4 separate regions of the Homo sapiens genome follow, and regions 2, 3 and 4 are each linked to region 1. The links come from fine-mapping of genetic effects on gene expression. A gene starts in region 1. Each other region holds a variant in brackets. All regions are shown on one strand. Distances are from middle to middle.

Region 1 (5,146 bases):
ATCCCATCAAGCTGACTACAGACACAGAATACGAACAGCATAAAAACATTTAAAACCAAAAACAAGAAAATGAGCTCAAAAGCTCTACTTTCTGACATTGGGAATCAGGCCCACTGGACGACTCAATGCTAACTGAAAGGCAAAGTCCAGAAGTCACAGAACTAGCGCTGACCCAATCTCCGATGAGCCACTTCTCCTTACACAGTAAACTGAGGCAAAGCGAGCCTCTGAGCTAGAACAGTTTTAAAGGCCAAAGCCCCAGAGCCCAACGGAACTTGTTGGGGAGGATGAGTCTCCACACTAAGCCTGTCAAAGAGTAAGACTTCCCTGCTGAGTGACAGCGGCTAGCAGCCATTCTGAATTTCGTGAAAGAGGGAGAAAGGGAGGGAGGGAGGGAGGGAGGGAGACCTGAGGAGGCAAAGCACCTGACTAGAGCCGACAGGGCTCAAATCATTCCCCTGTCCAAGAGAAAAGAACTTGAAGAATAACGTTCCCCATCCTCTCATGAAGCGTCGAGGGCCTTTCCACAGGTACATTTTGCTAATTTCACAACCTCTCTCAATTATTTAAATGGCCAAAATACAAAAGGGACATATTTACGGTCATTCGTTCCTAGTTCTGTCACAGGAAAACATATTCTTCTCACCCATCTCCTGTCGTTTGTCCAAACACACGAAATCTCTTTCCCCTACACTGCAGTAAAGAAATCAAGAACTTTTCACTCTATGCAGAATCAAGCAACGAATACCACCCCTAAATTCAGACCGCCAAAGTTGCGATGCGTATGGGCAGGCACTGTACGCTTCGCACATTCAGGGACTTGGTGAACACGCAGGATGTCGTTCTGCTTATTCAGTACAGTACACATTACAAACCAAAGAATAGTCAGAATTGGCCATTTATCCGTGATTCTTCTGCTGCTGCTTCTAAGCCTGAAGAGTTACCAACAACGTTAATATCTATCTGTATCATTACACATAAAGGTCCCCATATGCACCCAAAATGTAGAGCTAGTCATCTGACCCTTCCAACTTCCTGTGCACTGTATATGTAATGAATGTGATTTCATCTGTGTATACCTACATGTATGTATATGTAAACAAATGAATATAGCATCATGATCTGGTTCTCCAAAGCAGAACCGGAACAGCAAAAAACAGAAAGCATTCAAATTCCCCCTTCTGAAAGCTACAAGATCTAAAGAAATGTCTGGATCCCACAAGAGACAACACCAGAGCCAAAGGAAGGTTCTAGTACAACAAGGAGCACACAAGCAACCTCTTCCAGGATGGCATGTGGGCGACACGGGTGTCTACACTCCCTTTTCTGAATGGAAAGGCATATGGCTTCTCCTTACCCAGCCAACATGAATACAATTTGAGAAAATTAGAAAAAGTCAAAGTAACAGGCTCACTAAATATGGCTGACTGCGAAGCAGAAGCCACAGAGGAGGATATGAGTTCTCTCAAAAAACAATCGGGAAGTTTATATCCAGGAAAGGTTCAAGGACTCTTGAGTGTGGGACGGACAAAGTCTGGTTCTCACTGCACAGAAGACAGTAATCAAAACATCAAAAAACAAGGCCACATGACCCTTTTCCCAGTGAGGTAGTGTCAACTGATGAAGGTTGCCCCCTCCTGAGACACAAGAGTCAAGTGGAGGCAAAAATATACCCCGGTCTTCCTCAGACACAGGAGCAACTAGTGTGGCCCCTTTTCACTCAAGCACTAGGCACAATGGAAGCCCTGCCCTACATCTTATTGGGGCGCCCACTCTCACCCAGACAAGGAACTCCGAGAAGAGAGAACAAGTCAGTGTAGACACACAAATGGCGAAAGGAGCACGGTGAACGTCCAGTTGTCTCCATAAGAAAAGGAGGGCAACTCAAAGGGTATTTAGGAAATGAGCTCGCCCTAACCCAGCAAAGTGTAAGAGTATGCATGATCTGGAAGAAGTGTCTGCTTTCCTATTTAGAAATGACTTCAGAGCTGCACAAGCCCCCACTATCCACTGGGTGAGGAAAGAAGAACATGGGCAGCCTGAGTCCCCTTGTCCTGGCAAAAAGGGTCAACGGAGAGTGTGCAGAGGCCCCAAAAGAATCCAAAGAAGATGAGCAGATCAGACGGACCCCTGTGCCAAGGAAGGATCGGGGTCACGGAAGGTAAAGGGCAAGGGAGTGTGGAGATCCTCACTTGCCATAGAAACGGAGACCCCACCCTCCTGGCTGTGAGGGTGCAAGGGCAAGAGTAGGATGTGAACGACTGCGAGGGGCGGGGATGCTGCGCAGGCCCCCTTCCCTTCCCGGGAAGCGAAGGGGGAGGGGTCACACGAGGCCCTTCGGCCGAGGGACGCTCGGCAGGACGGGGTCCCCCTGGCGGGGAGAAGCTCGGGGACCCCCCGCCCGCTCAGGGAGGTGTCCACGGGGCTGAAGAGGGTGCCGGAGAGAGTACATCTGGCCCTGCCCGCCGGAGAGCAGGGGGCCGGCGAGGGCTGAGCGCCGGCCGCTGCCGCCCGACGGGGACCGGCCCGGAGCAGTGGGGCGCGGGGCCAGGAGGACCCGAGGCGGATAAACTTTCCGCCCCGCGGCCCCCACCGTGGACCCAGCGCCGGGGGTGCGGGGGCCGCGCAGCGGGCTCGGGAGCGGCGGGGATGCCCGGTCCGGGTGGGGGAGGCGCCGGCCCTCCGCCGGCTCCTCCTCCTCGCTGGGCCCGGTCCCCGCCCCGCGAGCCCCCCGCCCCCTCCGGCCCCAGCCCGCCCCCGGGGGTGGGGTGTGGGGCGCCGCGCTCCGCCGGCCCCGCGAGTCACCTCAGGACTCGGCCGCGCTCCGCCCCCCCACCCCGCCGGCCCCCTCCCCGGCCGGGTCGCCCGCCCGCCCGCCCGCCGCGCCCCCGCGCTCCCGCCCGGCGCCGCCGATGCCCGGGATGTCCGGCGGGGCCGGGTCCCGCCGCCCGCCGCGCCGCCCCCCAGCCCCTCGCGCTCCGGCTCTTACCTTCCGGCTTGTTTTCGGCAGCCATTTCCCCTCCGCGCGCCACATCCTCCTCCTCCTCGCGACCGGGACCCCGAGCGCGCGCCTCGTACCGCCGCCGCCGCCGGCCCAGCCACCCCGCCGCCGCCGCGCACCCGCCCTGGCCCCGCCCCGCGGCCCACGCACAGCTCCCGTTGGGCCGTGCGGCTGCCACTCATCGCTCCCGCCGCCAATCGCCCCGCACCAGGGGTCTCACTACTCTCCGGGAGGAGCGTCCTATCCATCCGGCCCATTGGCTGGTCACCACCCAACGGACTGAAAGGATTGGTCAAGAATCAACGCCCCCTCCCCACCCACTCCCAGGAAAGCCCGCCTTCCGGACCTAAACAAAGCTTCCTAGTGGCCAGAACCCGAAAGAACTGTCCAATCAGGACGGGCCCGACACGGAATATTTCCTCGAGGCCGAGACGTGGCGTTTTGATTGGGCGTCACTACAGTGTTTCCCAGGCCGTCCAGACCAATCAAAGGGGGTTCCCGGAACTCGGGAGCGGCGAAGGGAAGCCCCGCCCCCGAGCGTGACCGTCATGAGGAAGGCGCTCCCTCATTGGCACGCTGGGGCTTTTCCCGCGTGCTCCCGGGGCTGAAGGACGTTCCCGGGGAAGCCGCTGCTGGCGCGTGGGGTCCCGGTGGCTGTGGGGGACGCGCCGGGATCTCCGGGATCCCGCAGCCCGCCGCCGCTGCCGGTGGGGAGCCGGACGCGGGGGGCCTCGGGGCTGAGGTCCGCAGGGGTGCCGCGCCCTGGAGTCCGACTGCCTAGGAGTCCGGGCGTCGCTGCCGGCCGTGGGGGAGGGGCGAGCCTCCCGCCAGGCCCCGCCCCCTCGGCGCCGCGTCCCCACGGCCCCGGCGCCGCCCGCCTGCGCCCGCCTCCTGTGCCCGCCCCCGGTGAGCTCCGTTGTCCCCTTTTCTGGCGGCTTAAAATACCGAAACTTTATTTTGGTCACGTTGCCCATGTGACCCGCGGAGCGGATGACTCATGGTTGCCTGTCCCAGGATGAGGCCGCCGGCCGAAAGCAGAGAAGCGCCAGCCCCGGCCGCCCGGGTGGAGCGCTGGGCAGCCGAGTTTCCCACCCTCCTCAATCCGGAGAGTCCGCGCGGGGCTTTTCCTAATAAATAGCCAGGCACCCGCTGCCCTCGCGCTGCGTACGGGAGCACGTGCCCCCCGGGAGGTGGGCGCCCGCCAGGTGCCCCGGGAACGAGCCTAGGAACCGGGTCCGCCGAGTGCGGCTCTCGGGGCGGCTAGGCGTGCGGGTGGCTGGGCAGCGCTCCCAGGGACCGGCCTCTCTCCGGAGAAAGTAAGGAATTCTGCTCCTGGGCAGGTAATACCGGAAACAAAAGGAGAGGCTGCAATCGCAAATTGTTTAAAAAGAAGAAAAAGGAAAGAAAAGTTGAATGTAAGAGCTCCAGCCCCTCAATGTGATCTTGTACGGTTTGCAGTAAGAACATTTCATTCTTCCGCATTTTATTTTTCCTTTTGCTACTGTTGGTGACAACTAGCAAAATAAGTGAAAAATCCTCGTTCAAGTGTTCTGGCATTAAGATTGACTGTCACACTGAATTCTGTGCCAATCCTAACAACATGTGTTCTTTTTCTGGTCTTCACAAGTAAGAATGTCTTAGGTTTTCCAGAAATAAAGATGTCCCAAAAGAATGTTTTGTGTTACACACTCATTCTTCAAGAAACTTTAATTTTATGAGCCTCAAAAATTGCAAAATTTTAACAACGGCGGGACAATATTTTATCGATTAGCATTCTTAATAGCACCTATGTTGACGATTTGTGTGGAGAAACGGATTCTTAAAAGAAGTGCTGGTGGCATTGTAAATTAGTATATTCCTTTCGAAAAGCAATTTTACAGTATGTATTAAAAGCCATAAAAATGTCTGCATCTTTTGACCCAGTGATCTTACTTCTGGGAATCTGTTCTAAGGAAATAACACTAAATGCCAGAAAAGCTGTATGTGTGAAGGTATTCTTCACAGGATCACTGTACTTAACTACAACAAAAAATTGGGAGCATCCTACATGTGCTAATATTGGGTATTTAGTAAATTGTGTTACATCTACACAGTGGAACATTATGGTAGTTGTAGACATCAGAAACAGAAAATCACCCATTGCTA
Region 2 (5,146 bases), 47 kb after region 1:
TATTTTTAGTAGAGACGGGGTTTCACCATGTTGGCCAGGCTGGTCTCAAACTCCTGACTCCAAGTGATCCACCTGCCTCGGCCTCTCAAAGCACTGGGATTATAGGCGAGAGCCACCTCGCCCGGTCCACAAAGGGTCTTTACAGATGTGATGAAATGGAAAGATGTTGAGTGAGTTATGGGGACTCTCCTGCATCATCCAAGTGGACCCAGTGGGATCACAAGAGTCCTTAGAAGAGGGAGGCATGAGAGTCAGAGTCTGAGAAGGAGATGGGATCACAACCGCCAAGGTCAGAGCGAGATGTGAAGAGGCAGCACTGCTGGCTTTGAAGAGGAGGAGGAGGGGACCACAAACCAAGGGATGTGGGCAGCCTGAGGGAGCTGGAAAAGGCAAGGAAAGGGATTCTCCTGCAGAGCCTAGAGCAGGAACACAGCTCGGCCAATGCCTTCATTTTGGTCCAGTAAGACCCATTTCCTCCATAACTGTAAGATAATAAATGGATGTGTTGTTTTAGGGCACTATGTTTGTGATCATTGGTTACAACAGGAGTAGGAAACGCATATATTTTCCCACAGGATAGTTACAAAGATTAATGAAATTGGCAGCGGGCAGTGGCTCACACCTGTAATCCCAGCACTTTGGGAGGTCGAGGCGGGTGGATCACTTGAGGCCAGGAGTTCAAGACCAGCCTGGGCCAACATAGGGAAACCCCATCTCTACTAAAAATACAAAAATCAGCCAGACTTGTTGGCGGGCACCTATAATCCCAGCTACTCAGAAGGCTGAGGCAGGAGAATCACTTGAACCCAGGAGGCAGAGGTTGCAATGAGTTGAGATGGTACCACTGCATCCAGCCTCGGCTCTGTCTCAAAATAATAAAAATAATAATAATGAAATTATGCATCTTGGAGCACAGGGTCAAAAAGAGAAAAGAAATTATGCATCTGTAGGGTTCCCAGCACAGAACCCTGCTCTCCTTAAGCTGCAGTTGTTAGCAGGCTTGTGCCATGTCATGCATAGCAGGGACAAACATGTTTATTACTGTCAGGAACATAGGTGCTGCTCTATCAGGGGTGCCCCCCACCGTCGCCTGCACCAGAAGCAGTGGAGATTTCTCATACCATGGCTGATCACTAAATGGTGACCACAAACCTCCTGAATCCACACACTTCGATGACTCTCAGGTCGGACAATCATTGGAGTGGGGGAAGGAGGGGTCCCCAAAGTAAGATCAGGAACCCCTGATGAAGCACAAAGGGGACATTCATCCTGAGGATTCCAGCCAGCATCATGCCCTTTCCTTTACCTAAGAGAATTAAAGTCCACTGGGAGAAAAGTCTCTAAACCTGCAAACTTCACACACACACACACACACACACACACACACACACACACACACAATGCCATTTGAGGCCAGACATCGTGGCTCACACCTGCAATCCCAGCACTTTAGAAGGCCGAGGCAAGAAAATCACTTGAGCCTCAGAGTTCAAGACCAGCCTGGGCAATGATGTGGCAAGACCTTGTCTCTACAAAAAAATTAGATAAAATAACATTAGCCAGGCATGGTGGTGTGCACCTGCAGTCTCAGCTACTCAGGACACAAAGACAAGAGGATTGCTTGAGCCCAGGAGTTTGAGGTCAGCCTGGCCAACTTAACGAAACCCCCTCTCAAAAAAAAAAAAAAAAAGAGCCACGCATAATGATGCATGCCTATCTGTAGTCCCAGCTACTCGGGAGGCTGAGGTGTGAGGATCGCTTAAGCCTGGGAGACAGAGGTTGCAGTGAGCTGAGATCGCAGCACTGCACTTCAGCTTGAGCGACAGTGAGACCCTGTCTCAAAAAAAAACAAAAAAGCCATTTTGGGAATGGGGAGGCAATAGTGTAAAATGGGCTCATCTGCAGTCACAATTTTGGGTTGATGTAAATGAAACAGACATAGAGTGGAGGCTCCGTAAAGGAAGGGGTGGTAGGGACCGAGGCTGCCTAGTCCTAACCAAGACCGAGGTCTCCCCCTTGGCTCTGGGATTACCAGCCTTAGGCCTGGGCCCGGGCATAATGTATCATAACTATGAAGTAAGTTCTTCAAATTATGATCATTTCAGGAACCATTTTTTATGAGAAAATAAATTTTAAATAATAGCATTTTTAACTTTTTATGGCTACATTTGCCATGTGACCGGTGACAAGGTATATTTTTGCACTAAATGGGATGCATTCATTATCTCCGAAGTAACACTCACTCGCTGGAACTACATGAGCAGGATGAAGGGACAGGCTGAATCAGACAGCCATTCTTTTCACCTGTGACATATGAGCCCACGTTCAGTGGGAAACACACACACACACACACAAAGATAAAGGTAGGATAGTCGGGCCCGTGAGTCTAAAGTAGGTCCCTAAAAGGCAGAGGAAGATTCTGAACAGAGAAATAGATTTTTGAGACAGAGTCCCAGGCTGGAGTGTAGTGGCGCAATCTCGGCTCACCTCAACCTCTGCATCTCGGGTTCAAGCGATTCTCATGCCTCAGCCTCCCGAGTAGCTGGAACTACAGGCACGAGTCACCACGCCCAGCTAATTTTTGTATTTTAATAGAGTTGGTGTTTCATCAAGTTGGCCAGGCTGGTCTTGAACTCTTAACCTCAGGTGATCAGCCCACCTCGGCCTCCCACAGTGCTAGGATTACAGGCATGAGTCACCATGGCCAGCCCAGACCAGTAGATTTTAATTCAGGCCCAGCAAACATAGTAGTTTGTGTGTGTGTGCGTGCGTGTGCGTGCGTGTGTG[CGT/T]GTGAGTGTGTGCGTGTGTGTGTGTGTGCGTGCGTGTGTGTGTGTGCGTGTGTGTGCGTGCGCGTGTTTGTGCGCGTGTGTGTGTGCGCGCGTGTGTGTGTGCGTGTGTGTGTGTGTGCGCTTTACTCATTTGTTTAGCTGTTAATTAAATAGTTTAACTTTGGTCTTATACTTCCCAAAACTTCCAAAAACGGAAAACAAACTTCAATGGATAATGAATTCTCTACCTATCTCTCCACGTTCCTATGGGAACACAGTAGGTCGGAGTTGACCCGCTGTCTGTGCAGGCTATCAGGGGTCGGGCAGCAGACAGTTGGAGCGTATGGATGGGAGGTTTGCTGGCAGGAAGACCCATGAAACTAGGCATAGGAGGCTCACATAGTGTCTTTTGTCCCTGGGGAGAAGGACAGGATGCTTTTGTATAGTGCTTTACAGTCTACACACTCCTTTTCTAAATGTTCTGTCACCTGCCTGGGACTGTCTACATGACTCGTAGGACCTGGTGCAAAATGAAAATGCAGGCCCCTTGTTAAAAATGTATAACTGGATATAGTGGCTCACACCTGTAATCCCAGCACTTTGGGAGGCCAAGGTCAGAGGATCACTGGAGCCTAGGAGTTCAAGAGAAGCCAGTGCAACATACTGAGACCCGATCTCTGCAAAATAAATAAATTAGCCATCTATGATTGTGCATGCCTGTAGTCCCAGCTACTTGGGAGGCAGAGGCAAGAGGATTGCTTGAGCCCAGGAGTTTGAGGCTGTAGTGAGCTATGATCGCACCACTGCTCTCCAGCCAGGGCAACAGAGCTGGAGCCCATCTCTAAAATAAAATTTAAAAAAAATTTTAATAGGAATTTTAAGACAGCAAATCATTAAGCCAAGTACAGGGTCCTCTGTGACTTCTCGGCTGTCTGCTTGTGGAACTGGCCCGCCCCCTGCATAATATTCAGAAATCACACCCTATGCATTCCCCACCAGGCCCACAGGCACCCCCTACCCAGCCCACCCCCTACTCCCAGCCATGCTTTTAGCTGCAAATTACAAAAGCCCAAAACTGGCTTAAACAATAAGGACATTTATTGGATCAAATGACTGGAGGCCAAGAGAAAGGGTGGGCTTTGGGACCTAGCTATTCCACTGGCTCTGCCTCAGTTTCCCTGCCATGCTCTGAGTCCTGCCCTCTTGAGCTGGTGATGTCATCCTTGGAGCAGAAGTAAGAATGGCTGCCGCAGCTTGGGGCTCTCCCATTTATTTGTGCACAGCAATGTCCAAAGGAAGAGAGACCACTTCTCCCTATGGCCGTTCCTTAAAAACAAGGACATTTCCTTCCCAACAATGTCCTTGAGAAAACATCAAACTGATCTGCAGACCCATCCCTGAACCTCTCCCTGTCACAGAGGAATGCCACTTGCTGGCCCAACCTCGGATTCTTTGACTAAGAATAGGCAAGGGGAAGGAGTGGAATTAGCTTGATTGGCTTCAGCAGCCCCCCTCCCCGCCCACCTGGTGTCAAACCACTGCACCACATCACTGCTGCACAATGGAGAGAGTGTTGCCCACCACTCTAAATGACAGTCCCCATGACCCGCCTTATCCTTTGGTGAAAACTGTCTATGGGCAGCCATGTTTTGTAGCATATGACATTGACCCTTAGCCACATTTGATAGGACTGTGGGTCTCCTGACCTAGAACAGCCAATCCAGGGACTGCGCATCATCCTGGTTTAGAAAGATGAGGTAGCCAGGCCCAGTGGCTCATGCCTGTAATCCCAGCACTTTGGGAGGCTGAGGAGGGCAGATCATTTCAGGTCAGGTGTTCAAGACCAGCCTGGCCAACATGGTGAAACCCGTCCCTACTAAAAATACAAAAATTAGCCAGACGTGGTGGCACACACCTGTGGTCCCAGCTACTCAGGAGGGTGAGGCAAGAGAATCACTTGAACCCGGGAGGTGGAGAAAGTTGCAGTGAGCCGAGATGGTGCCACTGCCCTCCAGCCTGGGCAATAGAGTGAGACTCCGTCTCAAAAAAAAAAAAAAAAGAAAAAGAAAAAAAATGAGCTGGACCAATCAGATTCTTGCCTGGGGCATTTGAAGGAAGAAACCGTAAGCTTGAGAGAATGGGGCAGTTAATGTTAAAAGTTGATATTTGCAGCCATGAAAAAGAACAAAATCATGTTTTGTTTTGTTTTTTGTCTCACTCTGTCACCTGGCTGGAGTACAGTGGCATGATCTCGGCTCACTGCAGCCTCCACCTCCTGGGTTCAAGTGATTCTCCTGCCTCAGCCTCCCGAGTAGCTGGGATTATAGGTGCGCACGACCACACCTAGCTAATTTTTTGTATTGTTGGTAGAGATGGGG
Region 3 (5,146 bases), 960 kb before region 1:
CCTGTAATCCCAGCACTTTGGGAGGCCAAGGCAGGCGGATCACTTGAGGTTAAGAGTTCGAGACCAGCCTGGCCAACATTGTGAAAACCTGTCTCTACTAAAAATACAAGAATTAGGCGGGTGTGGTGGCACGCGCCAGTAATTCCAGCTACTTGGGAGGCTGAGGCAGGAGAATCACCTGAATTGGGAGGTGGAGGTTGCAGTGAGCAGAGATTGCACCACTGCACTTCTCCAGCCTTGGCAACAGAATGAGACTCCATTTCAAAAAAAGAAAAAGAAAAATCAGCATTGTTCTGTGCCGGAAAAGCCCCATTCCCGCCCTGGCCTAACCATGGATGGGCCCTTGTCCCAGCCAGTTATTCTCTATGCCTCAGATAACTGAGAAGACTACGCTTCTGAAACTCTTCTATGAAGGTGCTTTAGGAACTTTGTAAACATTTGATAAAAATTTCATGTTTAACTGTTTAAAAATTGGTTGTTAAAAGCAAATGGTTTGGGAGAATGAGAAAGCTCTGGAAATGGGTAGCAGTGACAGTTGCACAGCACTGTGAATATACTTAATGCCCCCACACTGCACACTTTAAAACAGACAAAATGGCAAACTTTATGTTATGAATATTTTACCATAAAATATTTTTACAAAGCAGATACACACACAGATATGTTATATAGTGAATCTTAATAAATTGGAGACTTCCAAAAAAATTCTACAAATTCAGAGGAAAAAAAGAAATAGTAAATGTTTTTGTTCGCATGATTCTGACTTTCATCTGTCCTCTCTGATCTTAAGAATGTCACAAAACGAAGGTTCTGTTCTAGTTTACCTTGTATTTCCGGAAAGCTGTCTGGACAAGCCTGGCAGCCTCATAGAGTTCTCTCTGTTCATGATCAGACAGAGTGAGCTGAGCAAACTCATTCTCTACCTTCTCACTGGTAGATGCACTCAGGAATTCTGACCAATCCGCGGCGGAGGGAAGGTTAGGTTTCTCGAAAGCGATTTCACTGACGGGAGAGCCAACAGGGCTCAAGCTGGTATTAGAAGAAGGGGTTAGAGGCTCGTTATATGCACTTCTGAAACAAGAGGAGAAAAAGGAGAGACAGATTAATGATTGATTTGCACCACCCATTAGATATTAATGAATGAGCCAAGATGGTATCTGCCAGAAGCCACTGTGGGCAATTAGGAACATGCCTTCATTCAGTTAGGCAAGTTGCTAAACATACCCAGTGTCCTTCGATTGAGTAAGTTTATACTCAACACCTATCATAACTTTAGTACTATGCTAAATACTAAAACCTAGTAGCAGTACACTCTACTGCCATTAGAAAACTTCAGCTGAATTAGGGGGAAACATTATGCTACATTATCTCTCTTTTTTTTCTTTTTTTTGAGACAGAATCTTGCTCTGTTGCGCAGACTGGGGTGCAGTGGTGCAATCTCAGCTGATTGTAACCTCCGCCTCTTGGGTTCAAGCAATTCTCCTGCCTCAGCCTCCCAAGTAGCTGGGATTACAGGCGCCTATCACCATGCCCGGCTAATTTTGTATTTTTAGTAGAGACGGGGTTTTACCATGTTGGCCAGGCTGGTCTCAAACTCCTGACCTCAGGTGATCCACCCGCCTTGGCCTCCCAAAAGTGCTGGGATTACAGGCATGAGCCACCGCGCCCAGCTTAACACGATCTCTTATGCTCTGATAGCAGTAAAAAAAATAATGGGAGAGGTAGGAATAGGAGCTGGGCCTTGAAAGTGGCAACAGAGCTTGTCCTCATGCTTCCTTCCTTCCTTGGTATGGTCTTCTATGACACGGCATTCATCAAATACAATCAGCCTCCCCTGCCTCCAATTACATCCGGGAATCTATGCTGGGTAGTGACCTCCGTAACTTTACTCACCGGATCTGGGCAGCACTGGGAAGGCAGTCAGCATCCGCTAGATAACTGGCCAGCCAGCTCATTGTACTGCTAATGGTGGCAGGGTCTGTTCTTTCCAATCCTGAGGACTCCATGGGCACAAAATTCTCCTGCTTGATTCGGTCAGGTGTGGCTTCAATAATGTGTTCTGCCAAGGTCATCATGTTCACCTGAAGTCAGAAGTTCACAGAACACTCAGGTTAGAAAGGAACCTTACAAGTTATCCAGGTCTACCTCCCTGCCTCGCCTTGGAGAGAAAAAAATAATCAGGCAGGAGGGCAGACTTCCACCTCAATCCAATGCAATGAAATACCATTTTAAGGTTATAACATAACACACCAAAATGTGCTGAGATCCTGAGACCTGATTATCTCCAAGTCATAGTCTGGCCCCAAACCTTTAGTCCAGTCTTGGAGAACTTCTGGCTTGTATGTACTCCCTACTCTCAGGGTCAACCAATTAATGACACTGGGCAGTTCTAGAGTAACCTGTAATATTAATGAGGTGTCACTATTAGTTACATAACCAATATCTAACCACCCCCTTTTG[T/C]CTGGCCTAGAGAACCCCGGTCTAGGCTGGGAACAGTGGCTCATGCCTGTAATCCCAGCACTTTGGGAGGCCGAGGTGGGTGGATCACTTGAGGTCAGGAGTTCCAGACCATCCTGGCCAACATGATGAAACCCTGTCCCTACTAAAAATACAAAAATTAGCCAGGTATGGTGGTGCTTGCCTATAATCCCAGCTACGTGGGAGGCTGAGGCAGGAGAATCACTTAAACCTGGGAGGTGGAGGTTGCAGTGAACCAAGATCGCGCCACTGCACTCCAGCCTGGGCGACAGCGCGAGACTCCAACTCAAAAAAAAAAAAAAAAAAAAAGAGGCCAGGCGCAGTGGCTCACGCCTGTAATCCCAGCACTTTGGGAGGCCAAGGCTGGCGGATCACGAGGTCAGGAGATTAAGACCATCCTGGCTAACACGGTGAAACCCCGTCTCTATTAAAAAATACAAAAAATTAGCTGGGCGTGGTGGCGGGCGCCTGTAGTGCCAGCTACTCGGGAGGCTGAGGCAGGAGAATGGCATGAACCTGGGAGGTGGAGCTTGCAGTAAGCCAAGATCGCGCCACTGCACTCCAGCCTGGGCGACAGAGTAAGACTCCGTCTCAGAAAAAAAAAAGAAAAGAAAAGAAAAAAAGAATCCTCAAAGCTGGTCTGGATTAAGATATTCTTTATGAGAATCAGAGATGTGGACTGATTCTTAAAAATGTCCTTGCATACCTCTTAGGAGTGGTAACTGAAACACAGCACTTCGGGTTCTTAAGTGAACTGAAAATGTTCTCGATGGAACTATACAAAGTGACAAAATGCTTCTCCTGCCAACACGAAGGAGCCTCAACAACATCCTGCTAAGTGGAAACAGCCGCAGTGGGCTGCATGGTGCATGATTCCACTTACATGAAATGTCTAGAAAAAGCAAACCTCTGGGGATAGAATCAGATCAGTGGTTGCCTAAGGCTGGGCAGAGACGGACTGCAGATGGGCACAGGGCACCGTGCAGTGAGATGGAAGTGTTCTAGAAAGGGACTATGGTGATGGTTGCTCAGCTGTATATGTTTACTAGAAGCCATCCCCTGAGCATTTAAAATGGGTAAATTTTATCATACGTAAATTATACCTCAATAAAGCTGTTAAAAATGCTTATTGTGGATAATTTTATAAATTTTTTATCATACGTAAATTATACCTCAATAAAGCTGTTAAAAATGCTTATTGTGGATAATTTTATAAATTTTCATCAAAGAACAATTCGTTTTTGTAATAACAATAAAAATAAAAAATTTAAGAAAAATATATTGGGCCAGGCGTGGTGGCTCAGGCCTGTAATCTCAGCACTTTTGTGAGGCCGAGGCGGGTGGATCGCCTGAGCTCAGGAGTTCAAGCCCAGCCTGGGCAATATGGCGAAACCCTGTCTCTACCCAAAAAAACCCCCAAAATTAGCCAGATATGGTGGTGCAGGCCTAGTGCTTTCTTACAGTATCTGTAATCCCAGATACTAGAGAGGCCAAGGCAGGAGAATTGCTTGAACCCAGGAGATGGAAGTTGCAGTGAGCCAAGATGGCACCACCGCACTCCAGCCTGGGTGACATAGCAAGACTCTGTCTCAAAAAAAAATTGCAGCTTTCTTTCACCTTCTCTATTGGCCGTCTTGATTTGTGACTCAAACGGTAGGAAGTAAATCTTGCTTTATTCTTTTTCCATGAAAGTATTCAAATATATTAAAAGTAAGGTGGAATTTCTGAAGCCTAAAAGGTTATCACTCTACAATCACTTTCCTAAATCCTCCATTTTATAAACATGTAACAATGTAAAAACATCTTAAGTAACGTTCTCAGTAGTTGGACCTGAAAAGTCACGTCACTCATTTCTAAATTTCATGGATTGTGCTCAGAGAAGACGGCCTTTAAATGGGTAGCTTTGGATTTTTATTCAAATTTTCTTCGTGTCCTAGTATATGAGCAGTTTTCATAAACATGCCTTGGACACCTGAAAAGAACAATTATATACGTAGTTGCTATGTGTATTAACTACATACACACATATAGTTATATATAAGTATATCATATATTAAATCTATCATATAGTAAATATATATGAAATCAAGCCTTCTGATTTTGTTGTTCAACTTGTTCATATGCTTTTCATATCTACTTGATCTGAAAAATTCTGAGCTATGTGTGTTAGTAGCACACTGTGATTATGGGTCCACATTTCTTTGTATTTACTAGTATTTGCTGTAATGTTTCAAGGTTATGGTGCTAGGTACACAATAGTTTATAACTGTCATATCTTCTAGATAAACTGTATGTATATATATATGTATATATACACACACACATTAATTTGCCTTGAATTGTACTTTTTATCTTTCTTTTTATACTCGTTTATCTATTATAGCTGTTATCTATCATTTCATTTTCATTGTTTCTCTTTCATTTCATTTTGATTGTATTTCTTACAAGTAGCATATAGTATATCCTGCTTTTATTTAAAAAAAAAAAAAAAAACAACCCGAGGCCGGGCATGGTGGCTCACACCTGTAATCCCAGCACTTTGGGAGGTGGAGGCAGGCAGATCACAAGGTCAGGAGATCGAGACCATCCTGGCTAACACAGCAAAACCTCCACCTCCAGGGTTCAAGCAATTCTTGTGCCTCAGCCTCCCGAGTAGCTGGGATTACAG
Region 4 (5,146 bases), 890 kb before region 1:
CTTTGTAAACACAGGCACAGGCGAGGCCAAATCTACACAGACAGCATCCTCTTGAAGTTCAGCACGGCCCTGGCTGTTGTATCCATAGGACCTATCACAGGTATAAGTGACATTTCCCAGAGATCCTCCCCAGTGGGTCTCCAGGGTAAACCCCATTGCCTGCCTACCTCTAGCCTGGAAGAGGTCCCCCTTGCATCTTTGTATGAAGAGCTGGCCTGCTCAGACCTCCCTGGGGTCCTGTGCAAATGGCCTGGGGTCAGGTCAGGACAGAGGAAATTTGTTCTGAATCCGCACCTTTGTGGGTGGAGGAGAAATGGTGAAAACGGCAGTTCCCGAAGACCCTGGGTTAAAGGCAGCCGCTCATTCCCTCTCCTGCCACCCTTGATGCCCCCTCTTCCCGGGCTAACCCTGCTCAGGCTTCAGGTCTCACCAAGGGGGTCGTTTCCTCTGTGAAACCTTCCTTACCACTAGTTGGATTCAGCTTTTTGACAGTCCCTCCTGCACTCATTCACGTGTGCCTGCATTCATATCACAAATATGTACTGCAGCCCACCACGTGCCAACCCTGGGCTAAGTGATGGGGGTCCAGCAGACAGGGCCTTTGACCCTGGAGCTCACAGTGGGGCGCAGGGGAAGGGAGGGGAAGACCCCTAGGTCTGGGGGAGGCGCTGCAGCTCCGGGATCCAGAAGGCTGCGATTCCTCCTCCCACCTTCCCCCATCTCCACGCCCGGTCTCTCCCAGGATGGCTGCGCCCCAGCTGAGATTTTGGGGACGTCGGGTCCCTGCCCCCCGGCCCCAACGTGGGGACGATCGCCCTCCGCAGGGCGGGGCTGCGCAAACAAAAGCTACGCCGCGGGGACAAAGGCTGCGCCGCGGGGACAAAGACTTCGCCGCAGCAGCTGCTGCTGCTGCTGCTGCTGGCGCGCGCGCGCGCGCGCGTGTTCTCTGCGCCCCGGACCCACGCCCCCCCCCGGCCTTTAGCCAAGCAAACAAATTCATGTTTTAGATCAAATGAGGGCAGACAGTCTCTTCCCCGCCCTCAAACATTTTCCCCCGCGCATGGCAGAGGGGACAAAGGGCGCATCCCACATGCAGCAGAGGCCACCGAACGAGGGAGCCAGGGCTCGCCGCCCACCGAAGGCCTGTGGTCCCCGCCGCACGGTGCGGCGCACTCGGAGGCGGGTGGCCGGGCTCAGGCCTTCCTAGTCCCGCGGTCCTCGCAGTCCCTGCTGGGGCCCCAGACCCCGCGGGGCGCGGCGCCGCCAGCAGTTCCGCGAAGGGCCCCGCATTGCGGCTGCGCGTCGGCGGGAGGGCGCGCGCGTGGGAGAGAGTGTGTGCACGCGCGCCGCCGGCAGCCGTGCCCCAGTTTGCTCCGCGCTGCAGTCCCCTGGCGCCCACCCCTTCCCCAGCCCTCCTCCCCTCTCCGCGGCGAACCCGTCTCCACGGCCTGGCCAGCGCGGAGGGAGAATCGGCCCAGCGCCCGCGGGGACGGGAGGGGCTGAGCCGAGAAGCTGCGGAGACCGAGGGGAGGGGCCGGGAGGGACAGGCGGGGAACGGAAGGCTCACCACCGCCCGGCCACTGCAGCATTGGCCCGGACGCAAAGTTCATGGCCAGGCCCCGTGGCTGGCCAGAGGCCCGGGACCCCCGCGCTCCCGACTAGCTGTTCCCGCGGCCCCCTTTGCGCTGCGACTGCGGCGCTGCTTCCCCTCCCCTCCCTTAGTATTTATCAAGCTGGTGAAAGGCTGGGAAGGCTGGGCCCTTGGGTGGGTGAGTGCCTTGTATTCATTTAGGGGGAAAAAGAATAGCCAGGGAAGACCCGCTTCTCCCCAGCCAGGTGGGGTCTGGCAGTTCCTCTGTCCCTGCCTCCCACTCATTCCTTGAAAGGACAACTGGCCCAGACCAAAGGAAAGCGTCCTTCAGGGCCCTGATCTGCTCTCTGCAGGGCCCCTGGGCCGAGGTGGACCCCAGGCTGGTCCCCTCTGGTTCAGCAGGGCGCTCTGAGCTGGGGGTCCAAGCTGCGGAGCTACTGTTCCCCTAGCTGTGCCCTGGCTGGTGGTAACAGAGGCGATGCTGCTGGACGCCCAGGCCTTGATGTCATCGCCGCCCCAATTCCTGTCACCCTCCTGTGTATCCTGCAGGTGCAGGGGTGCTTATTTCAACTTGGAGGCCCACAGAGTTCAGAGCTCAAAGTTCTGGGGGGGGGGGCAGCTAGGGAGCAGGTGCCCAGCTTGGCGGCAGGCCCATCTCGAGGGGCCTGGGGTGGCCGAGGTCCCGGGGTGTGTCTGTCATGAAGCAGTTGGGTGGCTCCCCTTCCCCCCGGTTTCTATGGCAGCATCCTCCCGTGCCGTAGCTTCTGGGGTACAGCTGGCTCTCTGGGTTTCCAGGGGGCCTGCAGATGTGTCCTGAGCTCTGGGGCACTGCCTGACTGTGACTTTGCTCTCTGAAAAGGCTCCATCTGCCAGGCAGGGTCCTACAGTGGTCCCAGCATCCTTGGGTTCATTCTAGTGAGGCCGGCCAAGTCACTCAGGGAGAGCCAGAGCTCTGGAGAGTTCCTGACTCCATTCCCCATTTGTTCTGCAAAACTAAAACC[A/G]GATTTCCTAAACGGGAGCCCCTGGTCACCCTGCCCTTCTTTGTTACATCCTGTGGGTGGTCATCACAGCTCTGCCTGGCTCCGGCCTCAGCCAGAGATGCTGCCAAGGGCAGCTCGGTGCCCCAGGGCAGCCCATGCTAGGGTTTGAAGACCCAAAGCCACCCCAGGGAATTGTCTCCTGAGGGTTCACCAGCCAGGGCAGCTGTCGGCACCCTCTCTCTCGGCTGGGGCAGGGACTGGGATAAGGCTGAGGTTTACACACTGGGTGGTTCAGGAAATGAACTATGTACCCAAGCCCAGAAATCCTCCAGCAGCCAACAGCAAGGGGCAGTCTGAGAGGTGAGACCCAGAAGGCCAGCTGTGGGTGCGGGGTGCGTGAGGGGGTGTTGCTTGGAGAACCCACCCCTGCAAGGGGCTCAGGCTCAGCTTAGCCCAGACCTCAACATCCTGGGCTAGCAAGGTCTCCAGCAAGGTACCCCATGGAGTGTCACCTCTGTGGGCTCACCTGATACTGAGGTTATGGACAGGCATCCCTCCTACCGCATCCCCAGTGTACTGGGCTCAGCCCCCCAGGCCTTGGCTAGCTCTGGGCCTCCTGACGTGTGCCCAGGTGGGAAATGGCAGCCTCTGGCTCTGGCGTCCCCAGCCTGCCTTTGGCAGCTCTTCTCTGCAGAGCCCCTGGTACCCCAAGGGGAACCACCAACACTCACCGACCCCCATGGCCAAGGCTGGCAGCTCTTGGAGTCCCTGCCTCTCCTTGACCACCAGGTCCTGCCTGCTCCCTTGAAGCCCACTGGGGTCCCTGACACTCTACCCTCTGCCACAGTCGTGATCCTGGGCTTGCCACAGACGCCGTACAGGCCAGAGGTGGAATTAAAATCAGCCAAGAAGCTGGAGTTGAGGGTATTTGAGGGCTTCCAGGAGAAGATTTGGCTGGTTAGCCCCAAAAGGCAGAAGCAAGCCCCCAAATTCGAAAGAAGCCCAGGCCTGAGCTGCCTCCCCGTCCTCTTTCTCGAGAGGCTTGGGGCTTGGCGATGGCCTCTGGGAACCCTTTTTGCTTCCAGGAGCCCGCGGAAACAGGCCTGGAGGGGCACAGCGGGTGCTTGGACCTTGCTGCCTGGGGTCCTTCGCCAGAGCCTCTTAGCTGCCCTGGGCTTGCTTGGCCACTCAGACAGCCCAGCAGGCGTGCCAGCCACAGGCCCACACTCACATACTTTTCAGTCTGTCCCAGGGAGAGACTGAGATTGAGGGTGGGGCCAGCCAGTGTCCAGACACAAATGGCTGACAGCATAGGCACTCAGCCTGGCGGTGGAGACCCAGTCGGCCTTCCTTTGCTCACATTGGCACCACTTCCTGCCCCTTTCTGGGTGCTTACTCTTCTTTCACACCTTGTGCAAGAGTCCCCAAGCATCCCTCTCCCTTGGTGCCTGGCAAGACGACCCAAGCACTGTTCTTACCGTCCAACGACAGCCAGTCGTGCTGGGAGGAAGGGAGCGTGGGCAGAGCCCGGGCTTTGTACTCAAACACCACCGAGTTGGAGATGATCTGGTTGTTGAAGGCAACTTGTAGGGTCACAAGACCAGTGTCATGGGCTGAAAGCGAGAGAAAAAGACCAGGTCAAGGGATGGGTGGGTACCTACAGCCTGGTGAACCACACAGGGCCTGGAATGTCCCCTCCCCACTACCCTTCATTGGTTAATGTCCAGCTCTCCTTAATGGTAGCCTATGCCTGCTCATTCGAGGCCCAAACACAATGCTGCTTCTAGGAACCTTCTTGGTTCGCCCAGACTCAGCCAGCTGTCCTGTGATCACTCCCAGGTACGTAACTGCCCCTTTGCTTTGTCCTCCGAGTGAGGGCAGGAGCTGGGTGCTCAGTACAGACTGGCTGAACAAGTGAATGAGTGAATGGCCCCCATCCCTGCCTCATGGCTGGCTGACTTCCCCTCTTGTCCCATCCTTCCTGGGTGGGGCTCGGGTACAAAATTTGCTTTGGATTTATTTGCGCTTATTTTGTTTCACCTATTCCTACAAGCTTGTCCTGACTCGATGAACAGCCAGCCATCCCTTGTATTTTTAGTTCTTCTGCTTCCCCGATGAAGGAGCTTCAGATGTGCCTCTGTTACCCTGGCCCCAGCTCAGCCCCAGTGGGTGTTGAGCTGGGGATGCTGATGTGAAGGTTGCACCTCCCTCCAGTGGCCCGACAGTAAGCTCTGGAAGACAGGGCCCTGGCAGGTCTCGTTAACTGCTGTGGCCCCAACACAGGGCTCAACAAATAACTCTATTTGTGGAATAAACGAGGTATGTTCTCACTGTGAGTAAGACGAAGCCAGCCTGCGGTGGAGACCAGCTTCAGCTCTTGGGTTGAGGTTGCCTCTCCATGGCTCATGTTGGCATCTTGGGGGCTGGCCTGTGGCCCACAGAGGTGGCCCGTGGGCAATGGTGGGTGTGCACACTGCCCCGCCAGGCCTCATCCCTGGCAGATGTCTGGGTTCTGTGCCTTCTGCCCTGCTTTTCCGGAATACCAGATACTGATACCCAGGGCCTCCCCAGTACA

Which allele goes with the higher level. Positions count from the first base shown, and alleles are read on the strand shown. Sizes are in standard deviations (SD) of each study's normalised expression. Not every link is listed here.
In carriers of allele G in region 4, the expression in lung of the gene that starts at base 3,111 in region 1 tends to be higher than with A alone (small effect, 0.18 SD a copy in GTEx).

Evidence for each region.
Region 2: its variant is fine-mapped to the expression of CAMTA1 in whole blood (INTERVAL, PIP 0.96).
Region 3: its variant is fine-mapped to the expression of CAMTA1 in whole blood (INTERVAL, PIP above 0.99).
Region 4: its variant is fine-mapped to the expression of CAMTA1 in lung (TOPMed, PIP above 0.99). The same link has a PIP of 0.9 or more in breast and subcutaneous fat.

Annotation. Positions count from the first base shown.
Region 1 is chr1:6,783,419-6,788,564 of GRCh38, reverse strand. It overlaps CAMTA1 (calmodulin binding transcription activator 1), which reads right to left and starts at 3,111. Exons shown (of 23, transcript NM_015215.4): 1 at 2,990-3,111. The coding sequence starts at 3,034. CAMTA1-DT (CAMTA1 divergent transcript) reads left to right here and starts at 3,585. Exons shown (of 3, transcript NR_149049.1): 1 at 3,585-3,907; 2 at 4,342-4,416; 3 at 4,520-4,673. RefSeq lists silencers at 2,359-2,538, 2,549-2,818, 3,029-3,188, 3,529-3,938, 4,069-4,128 and 1 more and enhancers at 3,394-4,068, 4,069-4,745.
Region 2 is chr1:6,736,796-6,741,941 of GRCh38, reverse strand. No RefSeq gene overlaps it. Among named protein-coding and RNA genes, the nearest start is that of LINC01672, 15 kb to the right of the region's middle. The variant CGT/T (reference allele first, on the strand shown) is at 2,788.
Region 3 is chr1:7,741,770-7,746,915 of GRCh38, reverse strand. CAMTA1 (calmodulin binding transcription activator 1) reads right to left here. Exons shown (of 23, transcript NM_015215.4): 17 at 1,894-2,081; 18 at 825-1,071. Among named protein-coding and RNA genes, the nearest start is that of VAMP3, 27 kb to the left of the region's middle. The variant T/C (reference allele first, on the strand shown) is at 2,461.
Region 4 is chr1:7,676,637-7,681,782 of GRCh38, reverse strand. CAMTA1 (calmodulin binding transcription activator 1) reads right to left here. Exons shown (of 23, transcript NM_015215.4): 11 at 4,050-4,184. Among named protein-coding and RNA genes, the nearest start is that of VAMP3, 92 kb to the left of the region's middle. The variant A/G (reference allele first, on the strand shown) is at 2,593.